Regions from separate parts of the Homo sapiens genome. Here region 2 is linked to region 1. The links come from fine-mapping of genetic effects on gene expression. A gene starts in region 1. The other region holds a variant in brackets. All regions are shown on one strand. Distances are between the middles of the regions. Region 1 holds the start of CMC2 (C-X9-C motif containing 2). Region 2 overlaps C16orf46 (chromosome 16 open reading frame 46).

What was found. PIP is the estimated chance that this variant, and not a neighbour inherited with it, causes the effect.
Region 2: its variant is fine-mapped to the expression of CMC2 in whole blood (TOPMed, PIP above 0.99).

The regions. Positions count from the first base shown.
Region 1 is chr16:81,005,038-81,007,942 of GRCh38, forward strand. CMC2 (C-X9-C motif containing 2) reads right to left here and starts at 1,848. Exons shown (of 4, transcript NM_020188.5): 1 at 1,697-1,848. It overlaps CENPN (centromere protein N), which reads left to right and starts at 2,177. Exons shown (of 11, transcript NM_001100624.3): 1 at 2,177-2,240. RefSeq lists a silencer at 1,586-1,955 and enhancers at 2,126-2,235, 2,546-2,685.
Region 2 is chr16:81,061,143-81,064,047 of GRCh38, forward strand. It overlaps C16orf46 (chromosome 16 open reading frame 46), which reads right to left. Exons shown (of 4, transcript NM_152337.3): 3 at 2,604-2,851; 4 at 1-996. The coding sequence starts at 2,813. The coding sequence ends at 19. Among named protein-coding and RNA genes, the nearest start is that of C16orf46-AS1, 9.4 kb to the right of the region's middle. The variant T/G (reference allele first, on the strand shown) is at 1,362.

The DNA of each region.
Region 1 (2,905 bases):
AAAATAAGCAAAAAACAAGGCCAGAAAAGTCTGTTGTGCAGAGTCTGAAGAAACTGTTCTCCAGAAAAAAAAACTGTAAACACTCCGCTTTCTAAAATATATCTTTTTAGGCTAGGCGCGGTGGCTCACGCCTGTAATCCCACCACTTCGGGAGGCCGAGGCAGGCAGATCACTTGAGGTCAGGACAAGCCTGGCCAACATGGTGAATCCCCGTCTCTACTAAAAATACAAAAATTAGCCAGGCGTGGCCTGTAACCCTAGCTACTCAGGAGGTTGAGGCACGAGAATCACTAGAACTCGGGAGGTGGAGGTTGCAGTGAGCCGAGATCGCGCCACTGCACTCCAGCCTGGGCGACAAAACAAGACGCCGTCTCAAAATAAAATTTAAATATATATATATATAAATAAATAACATAAAACATTTTTAAGGCCTACATTTCGGCCCTGGTATTAAAGAATTATTTTTCAACTTTTCAAGCTATGAGCCATACTGCAGCAGAGGTCGCAGACACGGTCGGGGACGGCCTCCCCTGCCCACTTCCACTTATCACAGGACCAGTTCTAAACCGATACCACTAAGAAAGCGACTGGCGCTGGCACTGTAGACCCCATGCCAGGCTGCTTCTGGGAGGGACCCGGGGGTGCTGCCTAGGGAGAAGGGCTTAACTACTCTGACTTCCACCGAAGAGTTTCTCAGAGAATGCGCCCTCGCAGCTTTCCCTGAATAAACATTACCAGGACTTACAAGGTGCCTAGCACTCTGCCAGAATCATGTGAATTTCAGAGGAAAATACTCGTTCACACATCTCAAGGAACGCACAGGCTCGTGAGGGAGCATTCTTGCCAATGCACATGGTAAATGCCCAATCGATGTTCGCGGAATGTCAGAAACTGACAACTAGTTCAGGCCTCAACGCAGTAGGAAAAGGATGAAAAAGAAACTCATTTTAAATCAACTAAACAAGTGCAAAAGCCATACATATAAAGGAGAGGAGATACGAATGGCATCACAACATAATTCCTTTGCCATCGAAAACTTCCATGCCTTTGAGGTTTTAAATGAAGACTTCCAAAACTGATTTACTTAAGACTCTACGTAAAACGCCTGATCTTTAAACGCAAGAAAAGCAAGATGAATGTATTACTTTCCTGGAAAAAAAAAGCATTAAAGGAGAAAAAAGAGTAAAGTGTACTGATGGGGCTCTTGGTGGGTTCTCACATCACAGGGCACTGCAGCTGAGACTTGCTTGAACGGCCCCCGTTTTCTACCCGCAAATTCTCAATTGCTAGATAAACAACAATAACAACACTTTATTGGGCGCTCATCGTGTCAAACCCTGTGTTGAGGGCTCCATTCCTCAAGGTCCATTTTACCGGCGAGGAAGCCCCGGCTCCGGGAGGGGAGGAGCGCGCCCAAGGTCACCAGCCAGTTGAGTGAGTGGCGGGCGGATCCCAACCCCGAGCGACGCCCACGGCCTGTCTCGGCCACCAGCGTGTTCCAGCGAGCGCCCAGCCACCTCGCTCGCAGCCTCCCCAGCGCAGCAGCCCGGCTGTGGGCCTGCGGCAGCCGGGTCTTCCTGGTCCCCACCTCCTGGGGCCGACGGGCGGCAGGAAGGGGCTCGGCGGGACGCGCCATCAGGGACCTGAGGAGGAACAACGGAACGCGTTCGGAACGGCCTGGACTCCCGAGACTCACCCGACTCGTGGCCACACCGGGAGAACTGAAGCGGCAGTAGCCGGCGGAGACGCCCGACCCGAAGGCCGGCTGCTAGGGAGCAGACAGCTGAACCGCTTGCCAGACGCCGAAACCCAGTGACGCCCTCCACCGCTCCACCGTGCTCCCGGCTCCTCGCCCCCGCCGCCCGCGGGCCCCAAGGCGCATGCGCCGCCTGTCCTGGAGGGGCCCATTTCCGTCCGTCGTGGGGGGAGGCACAGTGAGTCCACTGGGGCACGGCAGCGTCTAAGCCACAAGCCGAGCACATAAGCCAGGTCCTAACGGAGCCTATGTGTAAGTCCACTACTGGTGCAAGGTTGCACACTTCTAAGAAGAGCGGCGTGGGGGGCTCGGCGACCTTCGCTTCAGTCGCTCCCCCGTGCAGTCCCCTGTGCCCAAGACACAGCCTGATGCTTGTGCTCCGGTGGGCGGAGCTTGGAGGCGGCGGGAACTGCAATTGGTGGCTTTGAAGGCGCGGCGAGCGGGAACAGCTCTTGAGGAGTGAGACTGCAGGAGATGTGGGCCGGTAAGAGAGCCCCGGGCGGCACTGGATCGGGCCCCGGAGGGTGTGGGGCCTTGAGGAAGCCAGATCCCAGGCCTCGGGGGTGGCTTTTTCGCAATTGTCGCACGTTGTGAGGCGCAGGATTGGCGCTGGGTCTCGGGCTCGGGGCGAGGAACTACGGTTCGGGCCGAGGTGAGGGGGCGGTGGCGCTGTGCCGGCTGTGACGTCACCTCGCCCGCGGTGGGGCGGGTGGAGCCTTTCGTAGGCTCGCGACTGCGTCAGGGGAGGGCCGTGTGGTCATGTGACCAGGGGCTCCGCTCTACGATCCTGGGGTTGCTTCCTTTCCCAGAGTTGGGGTTTTGCTTTTCTGTCACCTCGGCTTCCGTCGTTTTTTGTCCCTGTACCCTCTTGCGTTGCTCCTCGCATTGCCTGTTGGAGCGCAGCAGAGGTGTGTGGCTACGGGAACGTTACTTAAAATGGATCTTTTTGATCATGCGTTCCACAGATCTTGAGCATCTACTGTATGTCAGACACTAAAACGCTAGGAAGTATAAAGAAAGTTTTAAAATGGGGCCAGGCGCGGTAGTTTACGCCTGTAATCCCAACACTTTGGGAGACCGACGTGGGCGGATCACCTTAGGTCAGGAGTTCGAGACCAGCCTGGCCAACATGGTGAAACCCCGTCTCTA
Region 2 (2,905 bases), 56 kb after region 1:
GGGTTCTACCGCAACCGCTCAGAGGATCCTGTGGGTAGAGACAGGAATGATAACTCTGCTCACTGTGAGAGACGGCAAGACAGGTCTTGGGAAAACTTTGGTCTCCAGCATTTGGGGCCTGTTTTCCTGCTTGGCCTTTGGGAGAACATGCTTTCGGGTGATCACAGGAGATCTTGGCTCCTTGGCTTTGAATTTGGATTTGTAGCTTTGCACTCCCCGTTTCTGCAGAAGCTGCAAGGCAGCAAGGTAGCGAACGTTGCTGGGGTCTGGAGGGCACGCCAGGTTTTTCTCAGACAGGAGGGACCAATGCAGGCAGCGCTGCTCCGGATCGGTCAGCAGGGATATCTGGGCCGCTGGGGAAGGGGAGGATGGCGTGTCGTTGACCATAGGGTGTTTGGCCAGCTCACTGGCTCTTTTTTCACCTTTCCCATCTGCTGTTTTCAAGCCATATGCATAAGCCACACACCCATCCTTTTCCACATCCAGCACCTTCTCTTCTGACTGCAAGAAAGAGTTCTTACTCTTCTTACCCAGAACATCCAAAGCATTTGAAAGTGAAGCCTTCAGGGGAGGCAGAACTAGGAGGGCCCTGGAAGTCAGGGGGCCTGGGATGGACAGCCCTCTGTGGGCCCCTCCACTGGGATTCCCAGAGGCCTTGCCCCTATTAGTGCCGGGGATGGCCCAGTCTTTGTTGCACCAAATAAACTCCTTGATTTGCAGACTTTTTTTCTCTGCTCGAAAGTAGGTGGGAAAGCAGATGTCGCTAATTGCCCTGGAAGCAGTGCTGGGGCCCTGGGGGGCTGCCTGAGTCTGGGAGGGGCTGCTCTGATCCTTCTCTGGGCCCCCCTCAGTAGGAGGCTTGGTCTGGAGGCTCCAGTGGGAGAGGTTAACACACACCAAGCAGTCGCTGCAGGCACCTTCCCCTACCCTCGCCTTTTTTGGTATCTTCCTCGGCCAGATGCAGGCAGCTGGAGAAGTCCTTCCCCACCCTTGGACCTGCAAATAAAGCGGCATGTTACTCCTCCAGCTGAGGGGCCCAAACTGTCCTTGCCCCAATTTTGGCCACATTCCCATTTTGGCAGTCTTATGTGAAACAATATTCTTATTTTTATTTATTTTTTTACTACCCCTTCCCCCACTAATAATTTTCTTAAAATTCATTCACTTAAAAAAAAAATCCTTCAAAGTTGCAAAGCATGAAAAAGTGTAATACCTACTTTCACCGCTATAAAGCAATAACAGTATTTGTAATAGTATTTGTTAATCCTAAATACTAGCAAGAGCATTTGTTAATACTAAAACACTAAGCAACAGTATTTGTAAATGGCCACTTTGATGTGCTGACTATATTTCTTTTCAAA[T/G]GCACATTTAAATTTGAAGCCATTAAAATAAAATGAAAACCGTTCATACTTGTCCCACCAACAAGGATTTCGGGCACCGCCAGTCTCTGCTTCCCTTACCTGGGGAACACTGTTGCTTGGAGAGGCTGGAGGGAGACCGAGGAGCAGAGGCAGGTCCTGGAATGCAGAGGAGCCCTGCGTACCCAGGGATACCTACTCCCCATACACGCCCAGAGTCCTCTGGCTGATCTTGCCACAGAGATCACCATTAAAAAAGGGTTGCCAGTAAAAATATAGGACCACATTTTGGACATACTTATACTGATAAATTAGGTATTTATCTGGTAATCCTATGTTTAATCACTGGATTAGACCAAGTTTTCTCATAGTTTTATGCTTTTTTTTTTTTTTTAGTTTTCTTATAGTTTTAAATATAGGATTCTATTGTTGATTCTATGAATTGTTTAAGAGTAAGCCTGCAGACCAGGCGCAGTGGCTCAGGCCTGTAATCCCAGCACTTTGGGAGGCTGAGGTGGGCAGATCACCTAAGGTCAAGAGTTTGACACCAGCCTGGCCAATATGGTGAAACCCCGTCTCTACTAAAAATACAAAAATTAGCTGGGCATGGTGGGCACCTATAATCCCAGCTACTCAGGAGGCTGAGGCAGGAGAATCGCTTGAACTCAGGAGGCAGAGGTTGCAGTGAGCCAAGATCGCGCCACTGCACTCCAGCCTGGGCGACAGAAAGAGACTCCATCTCAGGGAAAAAAAAAAAAAAAAAAAAAACCCACAGAGTTCTGAGTAGAGCCATTAGGAAAGAAGCCTCAGTTCTCTCAGGGAGTTCAGCACAGCTGCTAAGGAGCTCAGGGTTCTAGAGTCCAGGAGACCTGGATTCAAGCCCTGCCTTGGCCACTTATTGGCTGGGTGATCTCGAGCATGTAACTTTATCTTCCAAGTGACTCAGTATACTCATCCACAAAGCGAGGCTGGGAAGAAAACTTGCCCCATATGGCTATTGAGAGGTTAGATGAATTAATGTATCCAAAGTACTTAGTACTGTGCTGTCCACATACTAAGTGGCCATAAATACCCACAGTAGGTGCTGCTCTTATCATCAGTAATATTTTACCTCAATTCCAGGGTTTCTACATGTCATTGATTCCACATTTTTTGGTAATATTAACTATTTTTGGGAAAAAGAGGCTTGCACCAAAACACTGATGTGCGAGAGACAGAAAAGCTGTGACTCAGAAAGATACTCACTGCCTCTTCCCATCCAGTTCCAATAATAAACTCTTTGGCTTTTTCATCTTGTTCAAGCGTAATGTCACTGACATCGAGAAGACAATAAACATGATTTTTTTCACTTTTTCCATCTGGACAAGTATAGGTTGGTTCTGTTTCTTCTGTGAACTGAATTTCATTATTTTCAGCATTTTCTAAGTCAGTCTCATTTTTCTGACAGAGATCCATTACTGTGATGCTTGCTTAAAGTTTTTAACATCTTCTTGCTGTTTAAAAACATGAATGGAACTTCGTTTTTAATATTAATTTTTTTTTAAAAA